Linked DNA regions of Homo sapiens. The protein of the gene in region 2 interacts with the protein of the main gene of each other region in a pairwise test. Each region holds a gene or a part of one and is shown on either strand. Other genes may lie near its edges.

Evidence for each region. The genes of interacting proteins can lie anywhere in the genome.
Region 1: the proteins of SSX2 (region 2) and ZBED1 interact in a two-hybrid assay, tested with the Homo sapiens proteins (one large-scale study listed by BioGRID).

What each region holds. Positions count from the first base shown.
Region 1 is NC_000023.11:2,484,878-2,488,469, forward strand, and holds the end of ZBED1 (E3 SUMO-protein ligase ZBED1), read right to left. Parts: 3' UTR 1,558-3,592; downstream 1-1,557.
Region 2 is NC_000023.11:52,703,467-52,709,434, reverse strand, and holds the start of SSX2 (protein SSX2), read left to right. Parts: upstream 1-2,256; 5' UTR 2,257-2,323; intron 2,324-3,665; 5' UTR 3,666-3,685; coding exon 3,686-3,754; intron 3,755-4,192; coding exon 4,193-4,307; intron 4,308-4,842; coding exon 4,843-4,938; intron 4,939-5,968.

The DNA of each region.
Region 1 (3,592 bases), about 50 Mb from region 2:
ATGAACGTCACCACCGAGATTTCGGCACCCCAGAAACAGCCCAACCGGCTCCTTCCCACCAGCTGCCTCTTTACTAAAACATCCGAAACCTTTTTCTCACTTTCCCCAAGCTGTTTTCCTCACCCTTCAGAGGCCTGCTGGGAAAACAGTTCGAAGCAGGCAATTCTGCAAAGTGGGGGGGAAACAAAAACAACCAGCTCAGAGTTAGGGCTGTGCAGCCAGATGCAAGCGTGAAAACAAAACCGAACCGAAAAATCCCACCACTGTGCGGAAGGAGTGCCACACAGGCTGGGATGAGAACCGTCGGGGTTAGGGAAATGTCTCTGTAAGAAACCCTCAAGGACTAGAATTACTCCTAATGGGAAAAACGTGTAAACATGTCCCACTTAAATGAACATCACGATGCAAATGCTTAGTTATGAGGACTGAAAATGAACCCCTTTCAACCCAAAACGTGCAAGAAAGAGAAATTTCGGCATTTTAATGATGCCCAAGGACAGGCAGTCAACCAACAGCACTTGGAAAGGGCAAGTCTGGGCAGAGGTGCACATCCCGGCCTTCCTGTGTTTCTTGGGGGCCATTGTTTTCTCAGGAGGGAGGAAAAGAGGGAGGGAGGAAGGAAAAAGGGATGGAAGGAAAACGAAAGAGGAAGGGAGGGAGGGAGAAAAGGGAGGGAGGGACAGAGGGAGGGAGGAAAGGAAGGAAGGAGGAAGGGAGGGAGACAGGGAGGGACAGAGGGAAGGAAGGAGGGAGGGAGGAGAGGGAAGGAGGGAGGGAGGGATGGGGGAAGGAGGGAGGGGAGGAAAGGGAGGCAGAGAGGGAGGGGAGGGAGGGAACGGAGAGAAGGAAGGGAGAAAAGGGAGAGAAGGGAGGGAAGGAAGGGAGAGAAGGAAGGAAGGGAGAAAAGGGAGAGAAGGGAGAGAAGGAAGGAAGGGAGAGAAGGAAGGAAGGGAGAGAAGGAAGGAAGGGAGAGAAAGAAAGAAGGGAAGGGAGGGAAGGAAGGGAGAGAAGAAGAGACAAGGATGGGAGGGAAGGAAGGAAGGAAAGAAGGAAGAAAGGAAGGATTTGTTGGCTGAAGAAGAGAGGGAGGGTTGGACGGAAGGAGGAGGGAAGGAAGAGACCATGTGAGAGGAGGTGAGGAAGACAGGAAGAGAGGGGTGATAAGGAGGCTGGGGGGAGAGGGAAGGCGCTGATGCCATCCGGATCCATCCAGGCTGCCTCGTCCATGGGGCCTCCGTTTATACAACTATCCACTAAGTGAAGGAACCGGCAAAAATCTCTGCTCCCGGGGAACACTTTCACCAGCTGCCGGCTTTATTCACTCAGAAATTTTGATGCCAAAACACCCGAAAGTACATCATAACTTGAGGATTTACAGACAAGAAAGAGGAGCACAGAACTGACCGTGGGTGCCCTGGAAAAAGTTGCTTTCAACAAGGACCACAACAAAAATAAAAATAATAATAATGATAAACCTCCCTCCACTCCCAGGATCAAGGGGTTCAGACAAACTGCAGTCCAGACGGACACGCGGCAGACAAATGAATGAGGAGCTAATGCATTGCTCTGGTTTATTGAACAACAGTCCAACTTTACAGCATTAAATAAGGGGCAACCGTTCAGGAGGGGAACGATGGCTTAAAAATAAAAATGAAGACAGAGCCGGGACAGTTCACATTTCCACGTGAGTGAGGAAAAGCGAAGGATTGTTAGAGACGTGAAGAGAACGCTGGCAATGCTACAGAATGGAGCCCACGGAGGCGTGGGCTGCCCTGCGTCCCCGGCCTCGGGGCAGAACAGGGAGCAACCCCAAAGCCTGCCCCACTGTGTCCCTTCCAGCTGCCCTTCTGCCGAGAACACCCGGAGCTGAGGGTTCCAAGTTCACGGCGGAACCGCTTCCCTTAAAAAGAAAGCAAAGGTTACGTGGATTTCTCCCGTGCTTCCTTTTCCACAGACTTAAACCGGCTCAGGACGTAAGGATAACATTCTGTGCTGCTTGCAGCCCTGAGAAGTCAGCAGCCGTGAAAGGCAGGTAGTTCCTTTGCCCTCTGACACCCCGAGTTCTTGGGGTCTCGGCAGAACACTGCCTGGAGCTGAGTGGGGTCATCCCTCCTAGACACCGTTCTCCCCAGCCCAGCTTGTCTTCACGGAGGCAGAGAACCCGCTGCACGTAGAATCCAAGCAATATGCTAAGCCTCCTGAAGTATTTTTCCTCCAGTTAAAAAGCAGTTCTACATGTTGGAAAACGTCTTTCTGTTTCCCTGAATGACTGAAAGCAACTCGCAGGAATCCAGCCACGGAAAACCCCTCCGGGGGCAATATTTTAAAATTCATTTCCCCTATGGTATTCAGTTTAAAAGAGAAGAATCAAGAGTCCTTTCCGGTAATCAAATCAAAAACACCTTATGTGGAAAAGCTGGCCGCACGGGGGAACTGGACTTTTAGGGCTGAGACACCGAAGACATAACCTCCGGACCCGTGAGCCACCCACTTTTGTTTTGTTTTGAGACGGAGTCTCACTCTGGCCTCCAGGCTGGAGTGCAGTGGCGTAGTCTTGGCTCACTGCAACCTCCACCTCCTGGGCTCAAGCGAATCTTCCGCCTCAGCCTCCCGAGTAGCTGGGATTACAGGCGGGTGCCACCGCATCTGGCTAGTTTCTTGTATTTTTAGTAGACACGAGGTTTCACCATGTTGGTTGGCCAGGCTGGTCTCGAACTCCTGACCTCAGCGTGAGCCACCACGCCCGGCCACCGCCCAGTTTTAAGGACCAACTCCGCAAAGTGAAATTTCGGCAGGCAGCAGGAAGCAGGCTCTCTGGCAGCAACCTGTCGAAAATACAACACATTCCACACTTTTTTTTCTGTTTGCTTTTTGTTAAGTGTCTGCATTTTTGTACTCATCTGTCACATTTTTAACCGAACATTAAAAAAAAAGGTCTCTCTTTTTAAGAAGGGCATTTTGGCTAAAAGGTCTCTTCCCCATTTCTCAGAAGCAAGAGGTCCCTGCTTGCACGAGAATGTAAACATGAATTCAGTGATCTGGACCTCGCAGAAGTCACACATGATGATCGGGAAAGGCTCCTTCGACGCCACCCAGAATGTTCCTGCGTTTCTTCTAAACCCTCCCAGGGAGAACTCGAATCAGACATGGTGGAGGTCTTAAGTATCTGTGAAGGAAGGAACAGCTCCTCTAGGCTCTGCTGCACGCAATTCCCAAGCAGAAGCGTTGGCAGTTCCCAAGCAGAAGTCGTCCGGGCCCCGGGAATAGGGGAGGAAAGGAAACCCACTCAAAGCCACCTCTCTTGTGTCTTCTTTTTTCTTTTTGAGAGAGTCTCGCTCTTGTCGCCCAGGCTGGAGTGCAGCGATCTCAGCTTACTGCAACCTCCACCTCCCAGGTTCAAGCGATTCTCTGGCCTCAGCCTCCAGAAGCTGGGATTACAGGCACATGCCATCAGTCCTGGCTAATTTTTGTATTTTTAGTAGAGACGGGGTTTCGCCATGTTGGCCAGGCTGGTCTCGATCTCCTGACCTCAGCTGATCTGCCCACCTCGGCCTCCCAAAGTGCTGCGATTATAGACAGGAGCCACCGCCCC
Region 2 (5,968 bases):
ATAATTCTGTTCCTCTTATGGCAGTTACAACATCAAAAGGTAGCTTCATGGGTTCACTTCTCACGATAATACCCATTTTTTTTTCTGCATTTTCAGCAAGATTTTCTTGTTCTAAAACCTCAAGGGCTGCGATGGTCACTCAGCAGCCTAGTGGATTGCCACCGTATGTGGACCCATGTTCCCCTGGCTTAATGGTCAGCATTATGCCATCGTCCCACAGCACTGCAGACACAGAGTATCAACCTCCAGAAAGGGCCTTTCCAAGGAGGACTATATCAGGACTGACATTTTCATGATCAACAGCCAGCCATCTACCAGTTCTGGCCAATCCTATCTGTATTTCATCAACAATGAACAGAACCAAGCTGGGAGCATGAGATGGGACGAGGGCAAGTAAAAATACCACAAAGCTCACTGTTCTTACGGAGATTCAGCTGGTCTCTCTCTCGCTCTTTCTTTCTTTCTTTCTTTCTTTTTCAGTCTTGCTCTGTCGCCCAAGCTGGAGTGCAGTGGTGTGATCTCAGCTCAATGCAACCTCCACTTCCCGGGTTCAAATCATTGAGTGAGCCCAGGAGGTCAAGACCAACCTGGGAAACATAGCAAAAGGCAGGGTGGTGCATGCCTGTAGTCCCAAGGCCGAGGCGGGAGAATCACTTGAGTCCCAGAGGTAGAGCCCAGCCTGGACAACATAGCGAAACTGTCTCTAATAGAAAAATTAAAAATATTAGTGGGGGCGGGGTGGTGTGAGCCCATAGTCCCGAGGCCGAGGCGGGAGGATTGCTTGAGCCTAGGAGGTCGAGGCCAGCCTGGCCAACATAGCGAAACCCCATTTCTGCTAACAACAAGAACAACAGAAAAATAGCGTGGGCGGGGTGGCTCACTCCTGTAGTTTTGAGGCCAAGGTGGGAGCATTGCTTGAGCCCAGGAGTTTGATACCAGCCTGGCCAACAAAGCGAAAGCCTGCCTCTCCTAAAAAATAAATAAATAAATAAATAAATAAAAATGAGCGGGGTAGAATGGCACACGCCTATAGTTCTGAGGCCGAGGTGGAAGCATCATCTGAGCCTGAGAGGTTGAGGCCAGCCTGGGCAACATATCGAAACCCGGTTTCCACTAAAACGAAACAAAACAAAACAAAAAATAGCTTGGGCAGGGTGGTGCATGGCTGTAGTCCTGAGATGGGAGGATCCCTTGAGTCCAGGAGCTTGATGCCGGCCTGGCCAACATAGGGAAACACGGTTTCTACTAAAAAAAAAAAAAAAAAAAAAAGCGTGGGCAGGGTGGTGCATGCCTGTCGTCTCGAGGCCATGGCGGAAGGATCCCTTGAGCCCAGGACGATGAGACCAGCCTGGCCAACATAGCAAAACCTGGTTTCTACTTAAAAAAAAAAAAAAAAAAAAGCGTGGGCTGGGTGGTGAATGCCTGTAGTCCCGAGGCCGAGGTGGGAGGATCGCTTGAGCCCACGACGTCAAGACCAGCCTGGCCAACACAGCGAAACCTTCTCTATTAAAAAATCAAAAAATAAAAAATATTAGTGGGGGTAGGGTGGTTCGCGCCTGTAGTCCCAAGACGGAGGCTGGAGGATTGGCCAAGGCAGATGTAACCAATACCACAATCACATCCCATAAGTAAATACATTTTCCTCTCTTCAGGGCTACAGGTAAAGGATGGTAATTGTGCGCACCATACTTAAGATTCCCTTTCAAAAATGTAAGCAGAGGTTGCGGGGCCTTGGACTGTTTTTTCAGTGGCAACAGACATAGAAGCCACTGAAGAATGAAAGCCACGACTAAGTATAGCAAACCTCCGCAAATGTGCTAGTTTGGAAAACATCGTGTCTTTCAAGTAGAAAAATCACAGATTGACTATTTTTTTCTTCCCACAGTTCAGACTAGAATCCAGATTTTTAACCCAAGATCCAGGAACGGTCTTCAGAGAGTTCAAAATCTGACGGCGCCTGAGGACCACCCACTTTTTCGCAGTGGCAACAAAGTGTGGCTGGAGGAGGAGACATTATTCTGCTATGTCACTGCCCAAGGATGATGGACCAATCAGGGCAGTTAGTGAACTCCATCTGGCCAATTAGAAGTCAGAACAGTAGGCGGAACAAGCGAAGCGGATGTGGCTTCTATCAGTCCCGGCTCCAGGGACGGAACCTTCTCAAAGTGGGGGTGGAGACTCTAATTTTCCCGCCTAAAGCATCCCCTGGGATTGGCTACTTTAAGTTCAGAGTACGCATGCTCTGACTTTCTCTCTCTTTCGATTCTTCCATACTCAGAGTACGCACGGTCTGATTTTCTCTTTGGATTCTTCCAAAATCAGAGTAAGCATACGCCGATTTTCTTTTTCCATTCTTCCTACCCCTCCCCTCCTCCGCGGTGCATTTGCTATCTAGTTTTAATAAGGAGTGTATATGAGGCAGGCCGCCATCTCGAATCTTTCCTGTCAGTTTCTAACTTTTTCAGGTACGGGATTTTTCCTAGGAACTCTGTAGTAACTTAAGAAATTTGGGCCGGGCGTGGTGGCTTACACTTGTAATCCCTGCACTTTTGGAAGCCACAGCTGGTGGATCGCCTGAACCTAAGAGGCGGAGGTTGCAGTGAGCCATGATCACGCCAGTGCACTCCCGACTGGGCAACAGAGCGAGACCCTGTCTGAAAAAACAAAAACCAAAAAAGCTCACTCAAATCTTTCCTCCTGGGCTCAAGTGAGCCTCTCGCCTAGGCCTTGGGGCTACAGGCGCGCACCACCCCGCTTCTGCTAAATTTTGTTTGTTTTTTTTAGTAGAGATGGTTTTGCTACGTTTGCGAGCCTGGTCTCAAGCTCCTGGGCTAAGGCGATCCGCCCACCTTGGCCTTCCAAAGTGCTGGGATGGTACAGGCCTGCTCCACCAACCCCAGCTAACTTTTTGTGTATTTTGTAGACGGGGGTTTTGCTGTGTTTCCCAGCCGGGTCTCGACCTCCTGGGCTCAAGCGGCCTGCACGCCTCGGCCTCCCAAAGTGCTGGGATTACAGGCGTGAGCCACGGCGCCTGGCTGATTGCTGCATCTTGAAATGCCCCACATTCTCTCTAAGTGATGGCGGGCTCTTGTAGTCTCAGAAATTCTAGCTCTCTTCCTTCTAATAATTTACAAATCACCGAGTAATAGCCTCTGAACACGTTCATATTAGCGATGCTCATTTCTCTTCAACAGAACAGAACCCCCCATCCCTCTGCCTGATCAGATCCATCGCCAAAGAGACCATGTTATCTCTGGGACTAACTTCCCTTCCTTTATTTATTGAGTGGGGGTGTCAGCATGCCCCCACTGAATAAAATTACACAGTCATGTCCCTGCCTCCCCAAAAAGGGTCCGTACATCTTTCAGGGTAAGCCTAGCTCCAGGGAAACTACTAACAACATTAGCCAACCCCCTCCCAAAGACTCAAGGCTGCTTTGCCCATAGGAAACCTGTCATTCCCTATCAATACTTCTCCCAGAGACCCCTGGTTCCCTGTTTTCATCTGATTTCTCCCCATATCCTTACTCAGGGACAGATAAGCCCCGGATGGAGAAATGCAGCAGCTGATTCCAGGTGACTGAGGGTGGCCGGCCTTCACTGACTTCTCCCTCCACAGGATCAAAGCTGCTGTGGCTGGAAAGACTCAGGCTATTTCTCTTGCAGGTCAGACTGCTCCCGGTGCCATGAACGGAGACGACGCCTTTGCAAGGAGACCCACGGTTGGTGCTCAAATACCAGAGAAGATCCAAAAGGTGAGGTGACCTGGAGGGAGCAGAGTAGTGGCCCAGGGGACAGTGTGGGGTGACCCGGTTTCTGAGGAGGGGAGGACAGAGATACTGGAGACAAGGAGCAGGGTCTCGGGGGAGATCTGGACCCTTGGGAGCCTCCCACCCTCGCTCTGTCATCACCTAGCATCCCTGGAGACAAGTCTGTGACCTTGCACTACATCTGGTGACTCTCAGTCCATTCTGGAAGGTGGGAAGAGAGCCAGCCAGCAGCATTAAAGCCCTACTGTGTGGCAGGGGTGAAGCTAGGGAAGGTCCCTCGTGTTCTGTCAGTTAGCCATGGCATCAACCAGGAAGGATTATCATCCCCAGTTCCCAGATCTAGCACACAGGAAGCGGCTCCAGCTGAATGGCAGACATGCCTAGCTGAGTCCCTGCCATAATTCCTTTTTTTTTTTTTTGTAGGCCTTCGATGATATTGCCAAATACTTCTCTAAGGAAGAGTGGGAAAAGATGAAAGCCTCGGAGAAAATCTTCTATGTGTATATGAAGAGAAAGTATGAGGCTATGACTAAACTAGGTAACAGAAAGTTCTGGGAACAGACAAGTCTGGGGACACATGAGCATCCCTTTTCCTGCTTTGGCTACTTCTTAGGCTGCAGAAAGTACCTCACATTTTCCTTTTGTGCAGGGAAAAATCGCAAGGCAGCTTCTGGGTGTTCTGCTCTTCTGTATCCTGTCAGGGCTGAGGGCAGGGACTGGCCACAGTGGAGCTTATACCTGGATCCTGCACGTTTCTCTCCCTTAGGCTTCTGTTCTGATGAGCCCAACTGTCTCTGTGGCATCCCGGCAACCCCCCTACCCCCACCCCACACACACCCACCCTACCTTCTCTCGGCTTGTCTCTTCCTTTTTTTTTTTTTTTTTTGAGTCAGTCTCAGTCTGTCACCTAGGCTAGAGGGCAGTAGTGCAATCATAGCTTACTGCAGCCTTGAATTCCTGGCCTCAAGCAATTCTCCAGCCTTAGCCTCCCAAAGTGTTGGTACTACAGACATGAGCCACCATACCAGGCCCAAGCTTGTCTCTTAAGGAATAAACATTTTGCTTCTTTCTAGGTTTCAAGGCCACCCTCCCACCTTTCATGTGTAATAAACGGGCCGAAGACTTCCAGGGGAATGATTTGGATAATGACCCTAACCGTGGGAATCAGGGTGAGTAGATGGGAAGGGGCTGGAAAGGGTCTCCTCAAGCCCAGCTGCTTTTCAGCTCAGCTACCTGAGAAAGATCCTCAGGCATTTGTTCCCTCATACACATCAGGGCTGAGTGAAAAAAAAAAAAAAAATTGCATGCAGAAAGTTAACTACAGAGGCCATTCATATAAAATTTTAAAACATGCAAAAGAAGAATATATATTTTATGGATAATAAGTAAATGGTAAATGTATACAAACATGAATGTGAATAAAAAGCCATCAAATTAAGGTGACTGGCTGTAAGTGGAGGAGGGAGGGAGGGCGGGCAGGGATTACTGAGTGCGGCACAGACAGCTTCAGCTGTGACTTGTTGATAGTGTGTTTTGTTTGTTTTTGTTTTTGAGATGGAGTTTCACTCTTCTCGGCCAGGGTAGAGTGCAATAAGGCAATCTCAGCTCACTCCAACTTTCACCTCCTGGGTTCAAGTGATTCTCCTGCCTCAGCCTCCCGAGTAGCTGGGGTTACAGGCACGTGCCCCCACACCCAGCTCATTTTTTAATTTATGGTAGAGACGGGGTTTCACCATGTTGGCCAGGCTGGTCTCAAACTTCCTGACCTCAGGTGATCCACCCGCCTCAGCCTTCCAAAGTGCTGGGATTACAACTGTGAGCTACCACGCCCGGCCTATTTGCAGTTTTTCTAATATTCTGAATAAATAAATCAGACCTAACATAGCTGTGGGGTAATGTTGAGATCCGACTGGACTCAATATTATTCCCCATACTTTTCTGTGTGTTTGAAATATTTCTTTTTTAAACGACATGTTGTTCTTCCTAAGCACCGTTAATGAATCAAAGGACTGCTAAAAAAATGCTACAAGTGAAAAAAAAAAAAGAAAGAAAGAAAGAAAGTGTTAAAACTGTAGATCCGCCAAAAACTTCCAGAGTTTGTTTCATTAACAGCATGTAGGTATTGGATAGGTATCTTAGGAGTGAGGGTGATGAACACATTATGTAATAAAGATCGCTGTTTCTCTGTATTGGTTTATC